Linked DNA regions of Homo sapiens: all the other regions are linked to region 3. The links come from fine-mapping of genetic effects on gene expression. A gene starts in region 3. Each other region holds a variant in brackets. All regions are shown on one strand. Distances are from middle to middle.

Region 1 (8,000 bases), 41 kb after region 3:
TCAGTAGTGAGCTGGGATTGCCCAGGGGAGATAAAGTTAGTCTGGTATGTTCTAGAGAGTTCCACGGACGTCTAATGTGGACACACGACACCCATATGCCTGCCTGTGGGGTAAGTCCTTCGTGAAGGTTAGGTGAGAGAATTCAAGAGGCAGCCAGCCCACCCAATGGCACCTTGAGCTTTCAAGTTCTACTTTGCTTTGGAGAAGAAATTCTACTGTGGTGAGGTATATCCATCCAAGTGACTTTTATCATAAATCTCTGTACACCTGTGGAGGCATTGAAATGGTCTACAGCTGAAATGGCCTTTTCAGCTCAGATCATCCAGGGATAAGGTTTTAATCATCAACCAGACTGCTTCGGCCACTGAGTACATTTTTAGGACCCTGCCTTCTGACTTCAATTCCCCCAGGAAATACAAAGCATTCAAATGTTAGCCCAAGGGTAACATCCTTAAGAAATAAAATCTGCTCTTTTCTCAAAACCTGAGTGCCTTCCAAAGCCAGAATTAAATTTCTATTTGGGTCATCTGTGCACATATTTTGGGGAGACATAAATCATATGCAGCTCTGTTAGAGATCTCAGGGAGTGAGCTGTGTGTTAAGAATAAAAATAAAATTAAGTAACGTGTGCTAATAGATTAGTATGTTTCAAGTACTGAACTAAATGCTTTATACTCACTAGCTCATTTTAATACACCTGCTCTCTAAAAAGTGGCCAGGCACGGTGGTCACGCCTGTAATCCCAGGACTTTGGAAGGCCAAGGTGGGTGGATCACCTGAGGTCAGGAGTTCGAGGCCAGGCACAGTGTCTCACACCTGTAATCCTAGCCCTTTGGGAGGCCGAGGTGGGTGGATCACCTAAGGTCAGGAGTTCGAGACCAGCCTGGCCAACATGGTGAAACCCATCTCTATTAAAAATACAAAAATTAGCTGGGCGTGGTGGTGCATGCCTGTAGTCCAACCTACTTGGGAGGCTGAGGCAGGAGAATCACTTGAACCTGGGAGGCAGAGGTTGCAGTGAGCAGAGATCACGCCACTGAACTCTAGCCTGGGTGCCAAAGTGAGACTTCATATAAAATAAAATAAATATAAAATAAAATAGTCCTGGTGTCTCATTTTCCAGCTGATAAAACAGAGGCTGGGAGGGGTTAAATAACTTACCACACAGTGTGAAGAGTGACAGTGGGAAGCTCACGCTCAGGTCTGGCTGACTCCACAGCCCGCCTTGGTAATGACTTCAGAGGTGACAGACAGCACTGCATATACTTGGTGTATGTTGGCTGTTCCCTTTTTGTCCCAAACCTGTCCTTGGCTTGGAGCTATCCCACACCTAGGTTTCTCCTCCCCTGCTGCCTAGATACTGGCCAGTGCAGGCATCAGCTGGTCCTGGTGGGACCTGCCCCTTTATGATAAAGCCAAAAGAGATCCCAGTAAGCTTTGGGGTCTCTTCTGACTTTATCACAAAGGGGGAGGTCTCTGTGACCTTCTTCACCTGGCTGTATAATGACCATCTGAAGTCGGTGGGGTTGTGGGGAAGAAGGCCTGAGCCAAGGCTTCTTGTGTGTCAGATCCAGGAAGCATTTTATTTCATTTCATTGCCTTTCCCTGGGTCATCTGTTGTAGAGTCTGAGGTGGTGTCTACTCCAGCGCTGTTCCTATTACTCTGTGGGGCTGACAAGATGTTATCCCCCAGCTCCAGGGGCCTTGGCCATCATCCTTGCTAAGACAGTGCCAGTCTCTGGCTCCAGGATTTCAGTCTGGAAAGAGGTGCCTTTGACATTACAGCTGACTCAGGCTAATAACTGGGCAGTTCCTTTGAAAGGCATGCAAGCTTCCTTCCTTAGCCCTGAGATGACACTTCTTGGTATTTCTCCATCAAAACATCTTGTTTCTCCAAACAGGGGGGTTTATAGATTACTTAGACTAGTGGTTAAGCTGCCCAAGGATGACCTGAGAGCAACATGCTGGATCCTTATCACATTATGGGTCACCTCCCAACTCAGAACATTGAGTTCTGACTCCCCAGCTGGCATTAAATGGAAAATAATCCTCTGGACTCTTGGACTCTGTACTTACTGGCTGATTCACAGTCTAGTAAAACCACCTTCTTTCAACTGCCTAGAAATCTAAGTTGGAATTTTTATTATGACGTCATTGTGTATTTAGTAGCTGAGACTCAGGTCCATCCTGGCCCTGCCACGAGCCAACTGAGTGTCCTTAGACCAGTCCCTTGGTCCCTCAGACCCCAAGCTTCCTCCTTGGGAAAGTGTTGAGAATGACTTTTCTAGATGGTCTCTGGGTTGCCTTTAAAATAAGTCATTCCTTGGAATCATGTCTTTTGCAGTAACATGGGTGGAGCTGGAGGCCATTATCCTAACTGAACTCAGAAGCAGAAAATCAAATATCACATGTTCTCATAAATGGGAGCTAAACAATGGGTATGCATGGACATAAAGATGGAAAAAATAGACACTAGGAACCAAAAAACGTGGAGCCAGGCACAGTGACTCATGCCTATAAATCCCAGCACTTTGGGAGTCTGAGGCAGATGGATCACCTGAGGTCAGGAGTTTGAGACTGGCCTGGCCAATGTGGCGAAAGCTTGTCTCTACTAAAAATGCAAAAAAATTAGCTGGGCATGGTGGCACATGCGTGTAGTCCCAGCTACTTGGGAGGCTGAGGCAGGAGAATTACTTGAACCCAGGAGCTGGAGGTTGCAGTGAGCCAAGATTGTGCCACTGTACTTCATCCAGCCTGGGTGACAGAGCGAGGCTATGTCTCAAAAAAGAGGTAGGGGAGGGGGACGTGGGGAGGGGAGGAGTGGGGGTGAGGGTTGAAAAATTACATATTAGGTAAAGTGTTCAATATTTGAATGATAGGTATGCTAGAAGCCCAATCCCCACCATTATGTGTGTAATACCCATGCAACAAACATGCACATGTATCCCCAAATCTGAAATTTTTTTAAAAAGCCGTTATTAATTTTTTTTTTTTTTTTTTGAGACAGGATTTTGCTCTGTTGCCTGGGCTGGAATGTGGTGACAACATCTTGGTGCACTGCAACCTCCGCCTCCCAGGCTCAAGTGATCCTCCCACCTCATCCTCTCAAGTAGCTGGGACTACAGGCACCTGACTAATTTTTGTATTTTTTTGTGGAGATGGAGTCTTGTCATGTTACCTAGGCTGGTCTTGAACTCCTATACTGAAGCGATCCTCCTGCTTCAGCCTCCCAGACTGCTGGGATTATAGGTGTAAGACACCATGCCTGGCCCATTCTTAATTTCGTTGACCAAGTGTTTCTCTTACTGTTTTCGCACTCTCATTGCCAGTGCCCCCTTATTGAGCAGTCTGTGGGCAGAGCGCAATCAAGGGAAAAATACAAGATGCGGGAGAGGAGACAAACCCCCAACTCCCTTGCCCAGGAAGATTATAGTCTCCAGGGTAGAAAGCCTGTAAACACTGTACTAATGATTGTGATGGAGATCTGAACAGAGGGCAGTGGAATCAGAGGGCAAGATTGCCTAAGCCAGGCTCATCAGGCATATCTAGAATATAAACAGATGGCACAGGTGACATGTTTAACTTACACAAGAGAGGTCATGTCTTTGTTAAACATCCAAAAACCTATGGCATGAAGTACCAAGGGTTCTTGCATGTGTCTCTGGTTGGAATTGTTCTAGTTCTGTTGGTTTTGTAGTCAGTTGCCTATGAGCAGAGCAGAATCAAACAGGCTTTGTGCCTCTACCGCCCTGAGTACCTCAGGCACAGTAGTTTTGAAGCAGACACTGATGGGGCTGGAGTGTTTCGTCCAGATCTTTCTGTTCTTTCCCATGTGCCTCCCGGGCTTCCCCAGTGAGGTCATTAGTGTGTCCAGGGTAAGAACTGTATCACAAGCTTCCCACATATCTTCTGTGCTACCACTGTCTTGGTCACACACAGGTCCTTTGTATACCCTTAATGTAGTCAATTAGGACAGGCTCAGCCAAGCTTTATTTATTCTTGGAAACTCTGTGTGTGCAGTTGTTATTGGTGCGGTTTTTATCACATTCAAGTACACACTGTATTTTTTTTTAAAAACATATTCTGGGGCTCATGGATTATCTTAAAGCTGGGCTTCAGCAGCACCAGTGGCAACAGCAACTTGGCCTTGGTATTTTCACTGCTCAGCCTTGTAGTTGATGATGAAATATTTGCGACAAACACGTTTGCCACTCGGTCACTGACAAGCCTGTGGGTTTTGGGGTAGCAAAAGAGCAGAGTGCAGGAAATGATCCAGTGAGTATCTTTTACCTCCCAGAGGAGCAGAAGGCTCAGCCCATCCACTGTGATTATAGTCAGAGCTGGGCTGGATCTGAAGTTGAGTTTAAAATGAAATCATTGCTGAAAGGCGAGTGCTAACCTACTGTGAGGAGTTCTTGTCTATCCAGAGAGCCCCAGTTTGCTGATGGTTGAAAGAAAGGATGAAAGGGAGCCATTTGCGACTTTTGCAGTGTCCGTATGATCCGTGCCACTGTGATGGCCAGAATCTGGGACTGACCACAAAACACAGCCTCACGTTGGGTGCTGTCAGTGAGGGCTGTCTCCCCTCCTCCTTGCCCAGGGACGGGGTGTCTGGAATGTTAGTTTCCTTGCTGCAGTGTGAGTGAAGCAGAGGAACATCGGCATTTTTAGCCTTGTTCTAGCAACCCTGGCCACTTGATCCCAAAGTTAGTTCTTGTCAAGTGTTGGATAAAACAAAGCAACA[T/C]ATTTTTTCTTTTGTTCTTAACATTTTAACTGCAAACATTTAATCAGCAGTTTGACGATGACTGGTTAGAAATTGCCGCATAAGCTCGCCTTGAAGAAGTTATGCTAAGCCACCTCAGGTTTCTCCACTGTGAGGGGTAGATGCCTGGCACCTGGCTGGCACAGGTGTTGGGAATTCTGTGTGTCAGAAGCACTGAGAGCCTGCCATGAAAGGCAGCTGGAAACCTGGGGGGTGGCTGCTCGTGTCATTTCTGATAGGAAAAGGGAAATTGAATTTAAGGAGACCTGCGCATTTCAGAACTATACTTACCACAGTAAAGCCTCCGGGCTACGGCCAGCCAGAATGTGCCCTTCTCTCCCTGCCCATGTCTGCTCAGCGCCGAGGGTGAGCTATGATTGGGGCAGGGGAGGAGGGATGGAGGAGACAGGCACTGGATGCCAGGAGAGGAGAATGGGAACCCAGAACACATCCCTGGAATCAATCTAATTGTTTCCATTCCTCCTCATGAATGATTGGGGCCTGTATTCCCCAGAGCTTTTTAGCTGCCCAATACAGCTTTCCTTTGTCTCAAAAACCTCCCAAAGATGGGCTTCTAAACCTCGGAAAGCCAAGCCCCAGACCCTCAGAGCCCCATGTCAGGATGGCCCCGGACACAGGTTATTTCAAATAGACTCATTTCTCCCCATCAGCTGAAACCAGTCAGCCTGAACTGGGCGTGTTTATTCAGTGAAACCCAGGAACCTCAGTGCCCTGGTTTTAATCAGGAGACTTGCTCTGTGGTAATTTGGGGCTCCTCGACCAAGGGTCTGGTCCCAGTTAGTTTCCAAATGCCAGGCGTGCTTGTTTCCACAGACAGTGTCTGCGCTCACGTGGCCTCATGCAAATGCACTGTCCAGAAGGCAGGCTCGCGCGAGTGCAGGCCTCTTTTTAATATGGAATTTTGAGCCCTTCTGGCGAGGACTTTTCCAGTCTTTGTTTTTTGAAAAGAGGGTAAGATAATCTGCAGCGGCCTTTCTGGGGAAGTCATTTGGAGTGTTGGGTTGGAGCTTGGCAACATGGAAACCATTAGGGCCATCACAGGGGCTGACTGTACCTTGTAAGTGCGGCATCACCCTCAGCCTCTCAGAACAGGGTTAGCCTCATGGACTCTCAGCCTGTGCTGTCACACAGGGCCCCCCACTCAGAAGGGCTCCACACTTGGCTTAATGATCAGCTATCACTGCCTTGAAATTCTTAATTTTTGAACAAGGAGCCTCCCATTTTCATTTTGATCTGGACCCTGAAAATTATCTAGCCAGTCCTTCTAAGAGGATCCAGGCACCAGCATCGGATACCAGGGGGAGGTTGAGCTCTGCCACTCACCAGTCATGAGCCCTTGGTCTGAGGGGACACTGACCTCCTAGCCTCAGTGTCCTCCTCTCAAAAGAGAGCCATCAGCACCTCTCCCTTGCAGCTGTGTGCAGAGAAGAAAAGATCATGCCCCTGTGGCACCTAGCACAGGTGTGTCACATGGTAGGTCCTTAAAACACACACATCTATTTGACTTTTCTAGTCATTCCTTTCTTCATGCAACAAATACTATTGAACATGGACTATGTGCCAAGCGCTGGCTCAGCCTTGGAGTACAGATACCCTAGTAAGAAAAACAGACCTGGTCCCGCCCTCATCGAGGTTAGAGTCTAATCTCTGACCCACTTAGTGAACAGGTTGCAGAAGCCTCTTCTCTGTTTCAGCATATCCGAGAAGAACAGCCTCAAGTCTGGTGAGACCAGCTGCTCTGGAAGATCTCTTGGGCATGCGACATGGCCATCTATCCAGCCTTCCACATGACCCTCGAGGGTTTTGGGGTGCTGGATATCAGGGAATTAAAGCCACCTGCATGGGAGTATCTCAGGTAGTAGTTTCCCTCATCACTCTGTGACCAGCATTAGCCCCTCTCCTTTGCTGTTGTAAATTTGGGGACCTCCAGCCCCCTCGGTTTCCAGAGCATGTTTATCCATTCACCACATAACAGGCAGCACCCACACCCTAGGACCGTGTGGGAGCCAGGTTGTGCCCTCCAACCTGCCCCACCTTGAAGGAGAACTCGGCCTTAACGTCAGCAGTGCTGGGGCAAGTCCCTTGCTGAGGACGGTGGGGAGGGCTTTTACACAGAGAATCTATGATTATAAGGGTGGTAAGAAATACTAGTAATAATAGTTGGACATAGTGAGTGTGTGTTCATCATCAGGCACTGAGTGCTTTACACAGATCCACTTGTTTCTCCGTAGAGTTGCAAAGTCCTATCATAACCTCTATTTTACAGATGAAGAAACTGAGGCAGGTGCGCCCTCCCAGTGGCATCTCTCCCACTTTCGTGGCATGGCTGATATCACCGTCTACATGAAATGTGTATTGTAACAACTCCATCTCTCAGGGCGTTTGAGATATTCTCCGCACATCCTCCTTGTCCAATGGTCTGGGTTACAATGACTGGGCTGTGTATGAGGCCAAAAGAGCTTCTGCTTCTCCGGGGAGCCTGGGCCCCAAGGGGCAGGAGGTGGCACTCTCTGGGGGGCCTGATGGTGGTGCAGGTTGCTGCTGGGGTTGCTGGCTTGCCTTCTCAGCCAGGTGGCTTGTAAGGAGCTACCATACACTTCAAAGAATGTGGTCAGACCACATCCTACCCAGGAGACAGCTGAGGTGCTCGGGAGCCGGCCCAATGGGACACTCCGTCTGTCCGGGAGCCAGCCTTTCAGAGCCAGCACCAGAAGCGGTTGGGGTGTCTGGTCATTCTGTTACTCCTCTTTCCACTGCTAGCTGCTCTCCAGCTGCTGACCTAATTCCAGGGAAGGTTCCAGAAACCCTTGAGCAAGAAAATGCACATGGGCTCCTGTATAAATTGTTCCACTGACAGTGAGCTATTGTTAACTCTTTCAGTTCCTGGACCATTTCTAAATCATGAATATAGATTTAATTTTAGTGCAGGTAGTTTCACTTGCTAAGAAATTGGGTCTTTTCTATTCTTTCTTTTTTCTTTTTTTCTTCTAAGAACATGGATTTTAGAATCATTTAGGCCTGTGTTTCAGGCCCCAGCTCTGCCACTTGCTAGCTTTGTAACCTAACACAAGTTACCCCTTCTGAGGCGATTTCTCCTATAAAATGAGAATAGTAGCCCAGCATAGTGGCACACGCCTGTAATCCCAGCACTTCGGAAGGCTGAGGTGAGAGGCTTGCCTGAGCCCAGGAGGTCAAGGCTGCAGTGAGCCATGATTGC
Region 2 (8,560 bases), 68 kb before region 3:
TCTCCCTTTTAACATACTATATAACCGATTTCATTTGTTTATTGGGTATTTCTCCTACTAGAATAGAAGTCCATGAGGATTGGTGGGTTTTGTTTCTGGTTTTGAATTTTCTGCTTATTCTTAGCACCTGCAACAGTTTTCTGGCACCCAGGATATTTGACTAAATGAATGAACAAGCAAGTGAATTAATAGATGAGGTAATACCGGGATAAACCATGTTACAAATAACCAGAGTAAGTGACAATTTGCCTTGAGGGATTTGAGGGAGAATTTGATCAGATGCCTGGCTCAAATACAGATACCCTCCCATTTCATTTTTAAATATATTTTCCTTTAGGACTTGAGTACTTTCCCATATTCTCAAAAAGAGTCCTCTTTTAAAAAATAGATATATTGCCGGGTGCAGTGGCTCATGCCTGTAATCCCAGCACTTTGGGAGGCTGAGGTGGGCAGATCACCTGAGGTCAGGAGTTCGAGACCAGCCTGATCAACATGGAGAAACCTCATCTCTACTAAAAGTACGAAATTAGCCAGGCATGGTGACATGCACCTGTAATCCCTGCTACTCGGGAGGCTGAGGCAGGAGAATCTCTTGAACCAGGGAGGTGGAGGTTTCAGTGAGCCAAGATCATGCCATTGCACTCCAGCCTGGGCAACAAGAGTGAAACTCTGTCTCAAAAAAAAAAAAATAGATATATTACCCCCATTATGAACCTTCTGACATGGTACACCAGGAAGGACTCAACATCGCTTCTGTGGCATTCCTATCAAAAATGCATACTCTGAATCTAATCATGAGGAAACATGAGACAAACTCCAACTGAGGAACAGTCTACAACTGGCCTTTTCAAAATATCAAGATCATGGAAGTTAAGGACTAAAGAACTGTTCCAGTTTAAAAAAGACTAAGGAGACATGCCAACTAAGTATGAAGAGTGTTCCTGGACTGGGTCTTGGAACAGACGGAAAAGACTTCAGAAACATTATGGAGACAATTTATGAAATTTAATATGGGCCATAAACTTAATATGAATAAGAATATTGTATCAATGTTAAATTTCCTTGTTTTGATCATTAGACTGCAGTTATGTAATCTCTTACATCAGAGATTTCTTTTGTGTCTTAGAAAATACACATTGAAGTATTTAGTGGTAAAGAGGCATGATGTCTGCAACTTACTCTCAAATGGGCCAGAAAAAAATATACATCATATATATCCATATACACATGTAAGTAAAGAGAGCAAGCACTTGACAAAATAAATAGAGCAAAATCTGGGTAAAGGGTAAACTGGAGTTACTTATACTATTTTTGTAACTTTCTGCAACTTAGTATTATATCAAAGTAAAAATTTACAAATAAGTATACGTATATTCCTAGGGTGAGTCATACATGAGCATCTCAGGTAATACCTTCATTACAAGTTATTCAGTAGCTGAGAGCAAGAACTGGACACTCTCACTTTTGTTACTTCTTCACCCCAACCTGAGGACCCCCACATGAAGATGAGGAAGAAGTGGAAGACATTAAATTCAAACTTCACCTACATCACCGTTTTGCCTTGGACCCAGTGACTTTTACAGAAACAAATTGAGACACAGAGAAGTTACATAGATTAAAAGATAGAAATACGGGTTAGGGCCAGGCAAGGTGGCTCACACCTGTAATCCTAGCACTTTGGGAGGCCGAGGCAGGTGGATTGCCTGAGCTCAGGAGTTCGAGACCAGCCTGGGCAACATGGCAAAATCCTGCCTCTACTGAAAATACAAAATATTAGCCAGGCATGGTGTTGCATGCCTGTAATCCCAGCTACTCAGGAGGCTGAGGCAGGAGAATCTCTTGAACCTGGGAGGCGGAGGTTGCAGTGAGCCAAGATCATGCCACTGCACTCCAGCTTGGGTAACAGAGCAAGACTCCTGTCTTAAAAAGAAAGAAAGAAATACAGCTTGGGGTGGCAACTCACACCTGTAAGTCCAGACCTCTGGAAGGTTGGAGCAGGAGGATCTCTTGAGTCCAGGAGTTCGAGACCAGCCTGGGCAACATAGTGAGACCTTATCTTTACAAAAAAAATTAAAAATTAGCTGGGCATGGTGGTTCACACCTATAGTGCCAGCTACTCAGGAGGTTGAGGTGGGAGGATCAGTTGAGCCCAGGAGGTAGAGGTTGATCAGTCCACTGATGATAGCTCACTGCACTCCAACCTGGGCAAGACAGCAAGACCCTGTCTCAATAAATAAATAAGTAAGTTAAAAAGTAGGAATATATAAACAGTTAACCAGACAGGCTACACAGAGAAATGACCAAACTATTTTCTTAACCCTTATACATTATGAGATTTAATGTGTTAATACTTATAAAACCCTGAAGTCATCTGACAAAATGTACCCTAAGCTTGCCTTTTATTATCCTGAGATAAGGAATTACTTGACAATGAACATCGTTTCTGACTTTTTTATGACAGTATAATTGGTTGACATTAGTTTAATAAATATCAGTCACAATTTTCAAAATAGGCCCTGATTTTATGGCTGCCTTTGGTGATGTTTGGAACATGCCATCTCTTGCGCTATTAAGTTTACAGATTATTCTGTGTATTGTTCTGTTAGCAAGAACCCTAGCAACACAAGTCTTGATGTCTGAAGTTAACTAAGTGCAAGAAAGCACCTTATCTTATAACAACTTGCATTCCTCAAACATCTGAGCTTCTGTTGAGTGTCCTCAGTAATCATCAACCCTAAAGTAACCCTTGAGCAAGGGAAAGTAGGGTGTTGGAAAGGAGCTGGGGCAGCTGAAGCCCACGACAAAAAAAAAAAAAAAAAAAAAAAAAAAAAAAAGATGCCAAAAGTGCCAGTCATCAAAACTCTTGAGTGCTGTAATGAACGCTCCAGGGAGCATTGTAGTTGGGAGAATGATTCAGCAGTGGCTGACTCTAGGCTACATGGACAGATTCAACGAAGTTTATGGTCAAAAGCATTGCACTGGCTGGAGGCAGAGGAGGTGTGTGGTTTGTAACAGAAAAAGGCATTTGTCCTCCTTACATCATATTACCCTGTGTTATTACTCTCTGCCCCTCTCAAATATATCAACACGAAAGCTCTGTGACCTAAAGATGAAAAGAAATCATTTGCAAAGGTCAAACATTTTTGTGTTATGAAACACAAAAGTCTATGAAATCCACCACATACATTGTGAAACCAAAGTCAAGGTTCTATTTATTCTGTGCCAGTTCAGTGTAGGAAGAAAAAGAAGTGATGAGGCATATTTTTAAAGACAAAAAACTTAAAAAAAATGGACAAAATTATGACTGCAGACATGTGGAGAGTCCTATCTACACCCTGTCAGATGGTCCAAACACTCCACTCCCAACCATTTAGCCAAACTTTGCATCTGTTTATGGCTACATCTAGGAAATCAAAAGCAGATGACAACATCATCACTGCAGCCAATGTTTGTAGCAAATATTCCTTCTCTCCAAAGGCTTAGAAATTTGTGAACGTGGAGCCAGGAAGACGGAATCATAATTAAATGCAGATGTGCTATCATGTTATGCTATTATGCACCTAAAAGAAACAATGACCTGGAGTGCAAAACCAGTGTCTCCCTGAGAGAGCCCCAGATGGCACAGTCGGGCTAAGGACAGATTTCACTGTGGGGACCTGGCTGTGAAGGAAGGCCTAGAAGGAAACTAAAGAGATAAACATTGAGATTAGAGAGTCTACCTTCGTCAATTTAAAAAAAGAAGAAACAAAGATATTAGAGAAAACTCATATTGATCAAGACTAGATCTCAGTTCTGAAATTCGGAGGAAAGTACTGTTTGTCCAGAATAAAAGGAGGGAATTTGCAAAATCCAAAGAATAGTGGATAAGGCATGGATTAAAATAGCTTCAGGCCAGGCACAGTGGCTCACTCCTGTAATCCCAACACTTTGGGAGGCAGAAGCTAGAGGATCGCTTGAGCCCAGGAGTTTGAGACCAGCCTGGGCAACATAGTGAGACCCTGTCTCTAAAAAAAAAAATTAAAAATTAGCTGAGCATCATTGCACACGCCTGTAGTCCCAGTTACTCCAGAGGCTAAGGTGGGAGGATTGCTTGAGCCTAGGAGGTTGAGGCTGCCGTGAGCTGTGATTGTGCCACTACACTCCAGCCTGGGTGACAGAGTGAGACCCTGTCTCAAAAACAACAAATAAACAAAAAATAGCAGCTTCAGTAGAAGCACATTTATCCAGAGGTGGAGGGAAGGAGGCCTGGCTACAAGAAACCTTCATGCTCAACTGGCAAATTCAGCTCTGATTGTAAAGCATAAAAGGAAGTATTTTTAGAGCAATACTTACTCAGGAAACAGTAAAACTGAACATTGTGTTTCATCATAACTGGCTCTAACTTGCTGTGGCTGATTAGGACCATAAATTTTGAGTGATTCAGGTATGCCAGACCCTCAAAGAATCTAACTGAAAACTGTTTATTGACCAATGAACCACAGGACTTGTTTTAACCAACATACAGGCCTGTGGACTCTTTCCTCTCTATCCACAGTGCTAGTTTTCAATCCTTAATTTGTGGCCGTTAACAACCGCTGATTTGT[A/C]CCCCCTCAGTGAAACTACTCAATCGACTTTTTTCTATAAAATATATTCCATTGTCTGGCAAGTTTTAAAAAAACACTTGATTTTTTTTAAGCACTGAGGACCTTTATATATATTTTTTTTTCAATATTTTATATATATTTTCAATAGCTTTAGGGGTACAAGTGGTTTTTGGTTTCATGGATAAATTGTATAGTGGTGAAGTCTGAATTTTCAGTGCACCCATCACCCAAGTAGTGTTCTTTGTACCCAATAAGCAGTTTGCCATCCCTCATTTCACTTCCACCCTCCCCCTTCTGAGTCTCAAATGTTCGTTATACCACTCTGTATGTCCTTGCATACACATAGCTTAGCTCCCACTTACAAGTGAGAAAACATGTGGTATTTGGTTTTCCACTCTTGAGTTACTTCACTTAGAATAATGGCCTCCAGTTTCATCCAATTTCCTGCAGAAGACCTTCTTTTGTTCTTTTTTATGACTGAGTAGCATTCCATGGTGTATGTAGACCATATTTTCTTTATCCATTCATCAGTTGACGAGCATTTAGGTTGATTCCGTATCTTTGCAATTGTGAATTGTGCTGCAGTAAACATATACATGCATGTATCTTTTTGATTTAATGACTTTTTTTTTCCTTTGAGTAAATAGCCAGTTGTGGGATTGCCAGATTGAATAGTAGATCTACTTTTAGTTTTTCAAGAAACTTCCATACTCTTTTCTGTAGAGGTTGTATTAATTTACATTCCCACCAGTAGCATATAAGAATTCCTTTTTCACCACATCCTTACCAACATCTGTTGTTTTTTGACTTTTTAATAATAGCCATTTTGGCTGGGGTAGGTGATATCTCATTGTGGTTTTAATTTGCATTCCCCGATGATTAGTAATGTTGCACTTTTTAAAAATATGTTTGTTGACCATTTGTATATCTTCTTTTGAGAAATGTCTATTCATGTTCTTTGCCCACTTTTTGATGGGATTATTTGCTTTTTTCTTGCTGATTTGTTTGAATTCCTTGTCGATTCTGGATATAAATCCTTTGTTGGATGCATGGTTTGCAACTATTCTCTCCCATTCTGTGGATTGTATGTTTACTCTGATTATTATTATTATTATTGCTGTACAGAAGCTTTTTCGTTTTTGTTGCATTTGCTTTTGGGGTCAGTCATAAATTTTTTATGTTAACCAATGTCCAGAGGAGTTTTTTCAAGGTTTTCTTCTAGAATTTTTATGGTTTCAGGTCTTAAAGATCTTAATCAAATATCTTTTTTAAAAAAGAGGAACGTGAACAAGAAAGATAAAGGATGATGTGTGTAAAAAGCTAAAGGTGACTGTAGCCCCTAAAAGCTGTATAAAGAAGGGTAGGGTTTGGAAAGTGCCAGCTAATGCTTCCCCATCCCAGGTGTGAGGCAAGGACAATGGAAGGGATGTGAGTACACAGGGATCATTAAGAGACATGTGGCCTCTTTGGATGTAATTCCTGGAGTCCCAGCCACCACTACTGGCCCCTACCTCCATCCCAATGCTTTGGATTTCCTGGTTACAACAGCAGTGGGAAAACTGAAAATCCATTCTTTTTTTTTTTTTTTTTTTTTTTTGAGATGGTGTCTTACTCTGTCACCCAAGCTGAAGTTCAGTGACACCATCTTGGCTCACTGCAACCTCCACCTCCGGATTCAAGTGATTCTCATGCCTCAGCGTCCCATGTAGCTGGGATTACAGGCACCCACCCCCATGCCCAGCTAATTTTTGTATTTTTAGTGGAGACAGGGCTTCACCATGTTAGCCAGGCTGGTCTCAAACTCCTGACTTCAGGTGATCCACCCACCTTGGCCTCCCAAAGTGCTAGGATTACAGGCATGTCTGGCCTGAAAAGCCATTCTTGCAAGAGCTGTTGGTTCGACTCTTCACTTGGAGTCCAGGTTTCTACTGCCAGGGGCACCACCACATCCTGGCATCTCTCCTAATACCACACCATCGTCACCATGGCAACTGTTGCCTCCTCTCGTTTAGTTGCCATCACCTCCACAAGCTTTCACCGCCCCAGTGAGGTACCTCTCCCAATCATGTTGATGTGCCCACAGTACAGGGAGACCAACCATCCTGGTTTACCTGGGACAGAGGGGTTTCCTGGGATGTGGGACTTTCAGTGTTAAAATGGGAAAAGTCCCTGGCAAATCAGGATAGTTGGTCACCTTACCACCATAGTTGCCACAACTGCCACCGCCACTGACTGTGTCTTTGAAGTCGAGGTGGGAACAGTGGAGCATACTTCTGTCCTATGAAACAGTGCTAGGGCAGCTTTTACTTCCACCTTGAGTGCCCTGCCAAGCCCTCAGGGGAAATTCACACATCTCCATTTCCTTGAATGGAATCACGCAACCCTAGGAGGCTGCACTGCCTTCCCTCAGGCCATTTCTCGGTGACAGCTGTGTCCACCCCACTGTCACCCCAGCGATGTTGGCTCCAGGCTGAATCTGCCCATCTTTCCCGCTCCGTTATCTCTGAGGAGGACCTTCACCACACAACCTGAGGAAGGCAAACTGGACTTAAAACTTACTGCAATTGTCTATACGTGTGCACCAATACAATCCATAGAATACTCATGATTTTTAACTGTAAAATCTGCTCAAGTGTTATGCTAAAAGGGTGGAGAAATAATACTTTCAGATAGTTTTTTTCAAAAGAAAGAATGAAATATTTAAAAGAGAAATTTGTTAATCTCACCAAAAGCCTCTTTTTAAAAAAATTGAAATGATACTAATATGCTGTTTTTTATAAAGCCATATATATTCCCTTCAAGTGCTTTAGAAAATAGAGAAAATCATATAAATTTAACCTCCCAAAATCACCCCCAAATTTTACCATCCCAAGATAACCATTGTTAATATTTTTTCACAATTTGATGAATACTCTTCTAGTTTTATCTATGAATGTTTATGCACTTAAATATAGAAGGCTTTAAATAAAATGAGATCATATATATTATTTACAAATATTACATATATACATACTATATAACTTGTGCTTCTCACTTAATATGTCATAAACATCTTTCCATGTTGACAAATAAAAATCTCCATGATCGTTTTTAATGGCTACATGATATCCCATGTATTCCACAGTATTCCATGGATGTTTATTCTAGGCCTTCTTAGCTGCGGTAGATAGCAGCAGAAATTCTCCAAAGAGAAGCTTTTAAGAAAGCATTTTTCTTAACGGCTGCCTCCACTTCATTGCAGTGTTGACATCTCTTAAAAGCCTGCCAAAACTCCAATTCCCACAGTTGTTTACAGAGTAGCCCATAAAATAAGATATCTGAAATGGCATCTTTATCAAACATCACCAAAAAGAGGAAATAGAAAACCCAGAGGCACTCTGGTCTAATAGCCGTGATTCTTGTAAGTAGACTATTCCAGAAAACAAAAACAAAGAGGGGAAAGTAACTGAACTTCCAAACACTGGCAGTGCAATCCAAAGAGGTGAAAAGCAAATTCACATGAGCTGAATAAAGAAACTAGCAATCAGGAAGGAAGCACAGGGGAAATCACAAAAGAAAGCAGAAGAGCAGCCCTTGAGATAAGAAAAAGGAGGCAAACATGAGAAGGGTTCTTCAGAACTTGGAGATCACTGTAGATAACAGCAGAAGCACGGCCCGGCACCGTGGCTAATGCCTGTAATCCCAGCACATTGGGAGGCCAAGGTGGGCAGATTACCTGAAGTCAAGAGTTCGAGACCCACATGGCCAACATGGTGAAAACCCATCTCTACTAAAAATACAAAAATTAGCGGGGCATGGTGGCACGTGCCTGTAATCCCAGCTACTCGGAAGGCTGAGGCAGGAGAATCACTTGAACTTGGGAGGCAGAGGTTGCAGTGAGCCGAGATCACGTCACTGCACTCCAGCCTGAGTGACAGAGTGAGACTTCATCTCGAAAAAAAAAAAAAAACACCAAGCAGATGCATGAAGAAAGAGAA
Region 3 (8,518 bases):
CTTGAGCTCAGGAGTTCGAGACCAGCCTGGGCAACATGGCAAAATCCTGTCACTATCAAAAATACAAGGAATTAGCTGGGCGTGGTGGCGTGCACCTGTGGTCCCAGCTACTCAGGAGGCTGAGGTGGGAGGACCACTTGAGTTAAGGAGGCAGAGGTTGCAGTAAGCCAAGATCATACCACTGCACTACAGCCTGAGTGACAGTGAGACCCCATCTCAAAAATAATTAATTAATTAAAATTTAAGACTCAGTTCTTCAGTCACAATAGCTAGATTTCAAGTTGCAGCCACAAGTGGTTAGTGGCTTCTGTATTTGATAGCACAGATATGGAACCTTTTTCTTTATCTCAGAAAGTTCTATCAGACAGTCCTGCCTAGAGGCATTGACCCTCTCTCCAGAATATGCAAATATGTACTCATATTAAAAATGTTGTAGGCAATTTTAGGTGATTCAAAGACACTCCCCACTTCCTAAGCCCACCTCCCCAAGGTGTTAGGAACCCCTTTCTGATGTGGGTGGGGGCTGGGCATAGTGGCTCATGCCTGTAATTCCCACACTTTGGGAGGCTGAGGCGGGCAGATCACTTAAGGTCAGAAGTTTGAGACCAGCCTGGCCAGTATGGTGAACCCGTCTCTACTAAAAACACAAAAATTAGCCAGAAGTGGTGGCACATGCCTGTAGTCCCCACTACTTGGTAGGCTGAGGCAGGAGAATCTCTTGAACCTGGGAGGTGGAGGTTTCAGTGAGCCGAGATAGCACCACTGCACTTCAGCCTGAATGACAGAGTGGGACTCTGTCTCAAAAATAATAATAATATGGATGGGGAGCACATGACTCTCCTAAAGTCTATGGAGGAGGCAGGTATCAGGAAAATCTCAGTTCAGATGTCAGTAATCCTTTTCCCTTAACACACAGTCTTAAGCACCTGCTGGTTCCTTGAGAGTTTAAAAAGAAACCTAGCTGTTCATTACATTGCCCCATTCATCCTGTTAGTTTCATTCATTCACTTATTCAATATTTATTGAGCTCCTACTTTACGCTCATACTGACCTAGGCAATGGGATACAAAAGTGAACTCAATGGAGAAGATCCCTTCCCTCATGGAGCTTATATTCTTGTAGGACAGAAAGACAACCAACAAACAAGCAGGTAATGCTCTCTGCTCTATAAACTTAGTTTTCTCCAATTAATTTCAAATCTATTTCTGTAAGCCTGAACATGTTAATTCTCTGCTTAAAGACATTCCCTCCTGACTAGGAGAGTTGATTAAAACCACCTGTGGGAGTTAAAGATCTACATCTGCCAAATGCACTGAAGGTGATCCACAAACTAAATTAAAATTTGGCCACTCTCCAAAGTCAAGGCCATAATCTACCTTTCTCATGAGACAGTTCTGTCTGTAAATAGTTGGGATTATAACACCCTCACTTTCAAGGTAAATTCCAGGGTATTTTATCTCCTAATTTCCAGATTGTTTTTGATTGTGTAAGCACATAGAAGACCTCACACCAGGTAAAGTTTCTAAAGTTTACTTCAAGCTACCTCTGTTACATGATTTTTGCGTGGGTAATCCGAGATCTGCTTCTTAATTGTCAACTCCACTTGGAATTGTTCCAATGTTTGCCAGTGTTCTGTTATGTTCTTTTCTCCTTGTCCAGCTTAATGACAGCTGTTTTTCTTCAAAAACAATGTTTCTTCAAAAATAATGTTTGGGTAAGGCCCGAGTTGGGATGACATTTTCTCTTAATATAATTTGCATTCTTAAAATCAAACACATTACCAGCAGATTGGCTTAACTGAACACATGCACGTATATATAAGAAACCATGTCCTTTCTTTCCTTGACCCAAAGTTTTGTATTTCACCACACTGGCCAACTCCCAAAAGTTGAACTGAAATCAAAGAATTGGTTCATTCTAAGATGGCTGGATATATATATATATATATATATATATATATATATATATATATATTCATCTCTATCTATCTTCCTCCTATTCTTTTTCCCATATCACACAAAACACAAACACAGACACATTCTGGGTTTACTTGGTACTGCCAGTCCTCAGGCTGACTAGAAGACTGAGGAAAATTTGAAAGACAAGAGATCTATCTACAGTCTTTCCTAACTTCCTAGTCCCTTTACCAGATTTTTCCATGAGGATTTGTCTTCCTTTTTTCCTTGAGGAAGCCAACTCTTGAGGGCTACAAAACACTTATTTCAGCATGTGTCTCTAAAAGATAAGAACATTTGATAAATATAACCACACTACCATTACCACATCAAAAAAAAAAAAACAGTTATTCTTTAAGAGCAAACATCGAGGCAGTGTTCCTAATGGTTTCATAATGTCAAATGTTTACTGGCTTTTTAAAACAAATTCAAAATACACATAAGTTCCACACCTTGTAATTGGTTATTATGTCTTTCAAGTCTCTTTAAATGTGTAGGTCTTCTCTCCATCTCTTTCTTTCCTTGAAACTTATTTATTAAAGAAACTCAGTTGTTTGTTCAGAAGCATTTCCCATGGCTGAATTTTGCATAATATATCTTCATGTTGCAGGTCAACATTCACAGGATTCTCAGATTCAGTTGGAGGCATGTTTGATTATCTACACTTTAAGTCATCAAGTAATTTGAATATATTAATATAAATCCCATAGGCTCTTTTTCCCACTCCAGATGATTCCTCCAATAACCTTTCATTCAGTAAGTTCCCCGTTGTAAATTTCCAGTTAAGTAATTCTCTTTAGGTTTGATGGGTGCGCACAACGAAGAAAAGGGGGGACAGGGAAACCTTTCTGAAATTCATTTCCTTTGAATATATCCATTAGAGGGCGACATTGCCTTTAATATTATATTTCCCCAATAAAGTTTTAAATTGCATAAAATTTACTTTTGTATTTTTGACAAGTTGGACCTCATTGCCTACTTTAATTTCTAATCTCACGTCTGTAAAGTGTGACTGCATTCTCCTTTGTTAGTTTGATCTCTGCTGACTTGCGTCTTTGGTATTACAGTACTTCCATCTTTGACTCTGTTCCCAATTCTAACCATCGGGCGGCGATGTTGCATAAATAAAGACCCGCGGAAAGGCAAAATTAAGCGAAACTGCCAAATAAAAAGCAGTTTCACCGGGGGTAAAGGCCATTAATTTAAGAAGGAAAGAGACAAACCAGACATTTCTAGTTCATATCCAACTCACGGCCCAAGGTCAGAACTGTGTAAAATGCAACACAAAGGAGCCATTCAGGAGTGGGGGAGGCTGACTTGGGGAGAGCGAATGCACAATCCCCGCCTTGAGCCTGCGGTTCCACTGGAGGGGGCACAGGTCCGTTTGCGCACGTGCGTGTGAGTAGCCACAGGGCAGCGGCGGGACATGCCTGCACCGGGCATGGGACTGCTGAACCAACAGCGCTCTGGCGGACCGTTTGGGACACCCGCCCGGAGGCAGGTTGGCACTGGCGCTGCCTGGAGGTCAGCCACTCATTGTACCCCGGAGGAACTGGGTCCCGCGGGGGCATACGGCTCGCCCACCGGCACGCGTTAGGAGGCGAACACCTGCATCCAGCTAGGTGTTCCGAGCTCAGCCCAGGGCGAGGGACTGCTCTGCCACCTTCTTCTCATTCTTCCTGTAAGAACACTGTCTATCTCGGACAAAAAGGACCCACCTGACAGCAAGTGGTATCGTCACACAGAGGTAACAGGGAAGTCACGGATCCTCTTGAGAATCTGACAAAAGTTGGTGCCCCTTCCCCATAGTGGCACTCAGAAAACTGCAGGTGAAACCACAAATGGGCGGAGGCACTCACAGGCTTCCTGGGGCCCGTCCATTGATCAGATACCAGGTTAAGAAATTCTGTCCTTATTGGAGCCTAGACGGCAGCGCAAAGGAACCAGACGGACTTGGAAAGAGAGGCAGGGACTCCCTCCTCCCTCCAAACACAGCCAGCGTTTCATCTCGGATTGCGGGAGGGGCCTGGCGGAAGGTGGAGGAGAGGTGGAGCGCCTGGATGGGGCCCTCCCCATTCTCCTGGCCCCAACCCCAGGACGCCTGGCTGCGGAGGGCTCGAAAGCGAGCAGCGAACGCCCAAAGCCTGGGTGGCGGGAAGGTGGCAGCGCCCTGTAGCTTTTCCTTTGCATTTTTCTTTAAATCGTGAGCTCCGGAGCTATCGTTTCGACCGCTGCTTTCCGGTCTCCACCTCCACCTCCCAGTTGGCTGGCTCGCCCTTCCCCCACCCCCCCATCCCCCCCATCCCCCCCCATCCCCACCCCCATCCCAGCCGCGTGCCCGACCCTCGGCCTCCAGCCCCGCCTCCTTCGCCGCGGGGTTTAACCCGAGGCAGAGTGAAATCTGCATAGTGACCGCCCCCTCGGAGATCATTGGTGCAGCCCCGCCCATCGCGGCCGGTGATTGGTAAGCCGCCCGGGGTTATTTGCATGTCGGACGCAGCCGGGTACCCAGCTGTGCTGCCGGCCGGCGCAGCGCAGAAGTTTGCAGAGCGCTTTCTCGCCGGCTGGTCCCGGACTCGCGCTGCGCCCTGCGCCCTGCGCCGCCGCCTCCTCCTTCTGCCGCCGCCGCCCTGTTCTCCCGGGATTCCTTCTCTGTGGAGGACTGACTCTCTGCTTGTGGGAATTAGAGGTGGACAAGGGGGAGTGCCGGGGGGTAGCGACGGGGTTCTTTCCAGTGGCAGCTGCGAGTCGGGACGCCGGGAGCGTGGGGCTCCTGCTGGCCACGGATCTCGGCCACCTTCCCGCGGCCTCCGGGCAGGCAATGCGGCCGCCGAGCCCCGCGACGCAGAGAGGAAGGAGGGTGGCCCGGAGGGCCTAGAGCTTGTTTCTGCCCACTTGGGAAAGAGGGCATGGAGTTGTGAGTGCCCCTCGCTCGGCGACGCCGCCCTCGGCAGGCTCCCCATGGCCGGGACGTACAGCTCGACTCTGAAGACGCTGGAGGACTTGACCTTGGACTCCGGGTATGGGGCCGGGGACTCGTGCCGCTCGCTCAGCCTCTCGTCCTCCAAGTCCAACTCGCAGGCGCTCAACTCTTCGGCGCAGCAGCACCGCGGGGCGGCCTGGTGGTGCTACTCCGGCTCCATGAACAGCCGCCACAACAGCTGGGACACGGTGAACACGGTGCTGCCCGAGGACCCCGAAGTGGCCGACCTCTTCTCGCGCTGTCCGCGGCTCCCCGAGCTGGAGGAGTTCCCCTGGACCGAAGGAGACGTGGCCCGGGTGCTCCGCAAAGGCGCTGGCGGCCGGCGGCTGCCCCAGTTCTCCGCCGAGGCGGTGAGGCGCCTGGCCGGGCTGCTCCGCAGGGCACTGATCCGCGTGGCCCGCGAGGCGCAGCGCCTGAGCGTGCTGCACGCCAAGTGCACCCGCTTTGAGGTGCAGAGCGCCGTGCGCCTGGTGCACAGCTGGGCGCTGGCCGAGAGCTGCGCGCTGGCAGCCGTCAAGGCGCTGTCCCTGTACAGCATGAGCGCCGGCGACGGGCTGCGCCGGGGCAAGTCCGCGCGCTGCGGCCTCACCTTCTCAGTGGGTCGCTTTTTCCGCTGGATGGTGGACACCCGAATCTCCGTGCGCATCCACGAGTACGCAGCCATCTCCCTCACCGCCTGCATGGAGAACCTGGTGGAGGAGATCCGGGCCAGGGTGATGGCCAGCCACAGCCCTGATGGCGGAGGGGCCGGAGGCGGGGAGGTGTCTGCTGAGGCCCTGGAGATGGTCATCAACAACGACGCCGAGCTCTGGGGCGTCTTGCAGCCCTATGAGCATCTCATCTGCGGCAAGAACGCCAATGGTAAGCGCGCGGGCCTCGGACTGGCAGACTGGGTAGGCAAGAAATCCCGCCCTGGGCTACTGGGGGAGTGAATTTCCTGAGACAAAGCTGGTGGCTGTGCCAGTTCTTTGGGAGAAAACGTTTGGTCTGAGGATAGGGTTCATTACATGGCACTTGCCAGAGATTGTTCTAAGGGTGTCTGACTTTTGGAGGGTAAACTTGTGAATGATCTCCATCCTGTTCTGCGTGGCATTGTTACTATCTGCGGGCTGTTCATTGATTGGGTGAGATTGAATCTCTTGACCAAGCCATTCCTGAACCTCTCTTGAAATGAAACTTACTGCCCCGTGGCTCTTTACCGTGATTGACTAGGTCTCTAGCTGCTGTCTTTCCCCAACAGCTGGTTAGATTGACTGATTCTGCCCCCTAGTTTTCCCCAGCTCAATAGCAGCAACCAAAGGGTCCCAACTTAAAGACCTGAACCTTGGATAAGTAAGATGGGCGGAGGGAAGTGGGAAGCCCAAGATCTGGTGCTGCGCCTTGTGCTTTGCTGGGCTGAAGGATGCTGTCAGGCGCTCTCTTGGGGGATGGAGGGGTAGTGGTTCGCTCTTACCTATATGTGCCCAGGAATGATGAAACCTGGGGACCCCGACTCCCCTTCCCAGAAAAGTAACCACAGATTGTCTCCTGAGACCTGATTTTTCCAAGCTGTCACCAACCAAGTGAGCCATTGGTTAAAACCTTGCATTGTATTAAATGTTCTTTCCTGAAAAGAGTGGTGGCCCATCAAGGGGAAGAGATAGGTAACCGCATGGGGTCAAGTCTGGGAAAGGAACCATTGGGTGGTTGCACTTCCCTGAAGATAGCATGGATTTGGTGCAAAGGATGGAAACAAAGCACATGACCTTTTCCCTGACAATGTTAGGGGGTGTGACATTGCATTCAACTGCAAACTACCTACAAGACTTCAGTTTGAGAAGTCAGCACCATAAACTGTTCAGAATGGTATTATGGTTAAACAGCCTTACGATCTGATTGGAAGGCCATTTGGGGGGCAGCTTTCAGTGGCAAATAAGCAGGCAGTGGAAGAGGTCAGGTGGGGACTGGAAAGGGATAAAAGAAGTCAAAACATGGTTTAACATAATCATAATAGCTGAAATGCAAAATAACCCTTAATGTGTCGTCATTATTCTCAGCACTTTGTATTTAACTCAAGTACTCCTAGCAAGCCTATTAGGTAGGTACTTACTGCATAGTATGATGCCCATTTTACAGATAAGGAAACCAAGGTACCCAGCAGTTAAATAATCTGCCCAACATTACATAGATGTTAAATGGCAAAACTGGAATTTGAATCCAGTTTGAATCCAGGTAGGCCCCTTTAAGGTTCTAGATGCTGGTGGAGAAGAAACAGCTTTGTTTTTCTGGTTTGTTGTTGTTGTTTGTTTGTTTGTTTTTCTTACTGGACTATAGCTCTCAGATCTTATGCTTTGTTTTTTGATTAGCCCAGTTTTCGAGAACAGTTGACATGTTAGGCCCATTTTGAAGACACTCTGTACCAAGCATGGCTTACTTTGACATTATTGGTTTTGTTTTTAAATTCTGGCACTGCCAAAGGAGATGCTGGGAATTGAAGAGCATCTGCTGCTTAATTTTCTTCCTCTTAGGTCAGAGCTAAGGTCAGTCCTGAATCTCAGTTGATGATGTCACAGCTGCTTGTTGTGCCTCACCCTCCAGGTTTGTGGCATCAACACTGGGAACAGCAGCTCCAGGGCAGGAAGTGGAGGGCCAGGGGATTTCCATCTCCAGTGGTCATAATTGAGGGAAAGAGTTCTGTACTTTTGGCTGAGAGGAGGCCCAAACTGAACTCAAAGAAGTAAAGGCAGGCTCCTAGGAGAAAAGACTGAAGACCTAACCCTATAAGCCAAACAAGAATAAGGGTGGAACTGTAAATGCAAAACAAAACAAAAACATATATTCATGCAGAACAGGTGCCCAGCACATTGAGAAGCTTCTCCCAGCTTTTCTAACTGCAAATTGAAATAAGGAAGACCAACTCCCTGCCCAGGACACCCTGAAGATGCGAAGTGGCCAGAAGCTGCTAGAAAACAGATGTCTTCTGCTAAAGGGCTTCCAACCAAAGAACTATTTCTTATCTAGGGTCAGCATTCCTTGGGATTTCCTTTATAAGTTGGTCTTTTGGCACCACCTACCCCCCCACCCCCACCCCCCAGCTCCACCACCACCTTTTGTTTTTTTAAATAGAGACAGGGTTTTGCTATGTTGCCCAGGCTGGTTTCAAACTCCTGGGCTCCAGCAGTCCTCCTGCCTCGGCCTCTCAAAATGTTGGGATTACAGGCGACAGGCGTGAGCCACCACACTCAGCCACGACCCCATGTTTTAACCTCCTCCTTGCCCCCCCTTTCCAAACAATCCTCCTTAATCCTGGGTAGTCAAGAGAGCAGGATTCTCTGTGGCAGACAACAAAGCTCCCCGGATGCTCAGAGTCAAAGTGTCTCCCTCTGTACCTTCTCGGGTCTCCAGGGAACTCTCTTGCAGGCGAGGTGACCATTCACTTCCACTTAGCAACTGGATGCTCATTTTTTATACATGAAAACCAGGGGGTGGCCACATTAAACAATAACCAGGCTGATTTATTAAGTCCCTTTAGACAAAGTGAAATGAATGTTTAGTAGAGGGGCAATGAATTACTTATGTCTGAAAGCTGGCTTCAGAGGGA

Alleles and levels. Alleles are on the strand shown, and positions count from the first base shown. SD is a standard deviation of normalised expression in the study named. Not every link is listed here.
With allele A in place of C in region 2, the expression in CD4 T cells of the gene that starts at base 4,490 in region 3 is higher (large effect, 1.5 SD a copy in BLUEPRINT).

The links. PIP is the estimated chance that this variant, and not a neighbour inherited with it, causes the effect. A credible set is the group of variants that fine-mapping cannot tell apart.
Region 1: its variant is the best candidate, but not a certain one, in a credible set for the expression of ABTB2 in whole blood (TOPMed, PIP 0.67).
Region 2: its variant is the best candidate, but not a certain one, in a credible set for the expression of ABTB2 in CD4 T cells (BLUEPRINT, PIP 0.55).

What each region holds. Positions count from the first base shown.
Region 1 is chr11:34,312,762-34,320,761 of GRCh38, reverse strand. All of the region lies in intron 1 of ABTB2 (ankyrin repeat and BTB domain containing 2), which reads left to right. Among named protein-coding and RNA genes, the nearest start is that of ABTB2, 41 kb to the left of the region's middle. The variant T/C (reference allele first, on the strand shown) is at 4,745.
Region 2 is chr11:34,421,880-34,430,439 of GRCh38, reverse strand. No RefSeq gene overlaps it. Among named protein-coding and RNA genes, the nearest start is that of CAT, 13 kb to the left of the region's middle. The variant A/C (reference allele first, on the strand shown) is at 4,584.
Region 3 is chr11:34,353,982-34,362,499 of GRCh38, reverse strand. ABTB2 (ankyrin repeat and BTB domain containing 2) reads left to right here and starts at 4,490. Exons shown (of 17, transcript NM_145804.3): 1 at 4,490-5,799. The coding sequence starts at 4,917. RefSeq lists a silencer at 4,305-4,504 and an enhancer at 5,455-5,564.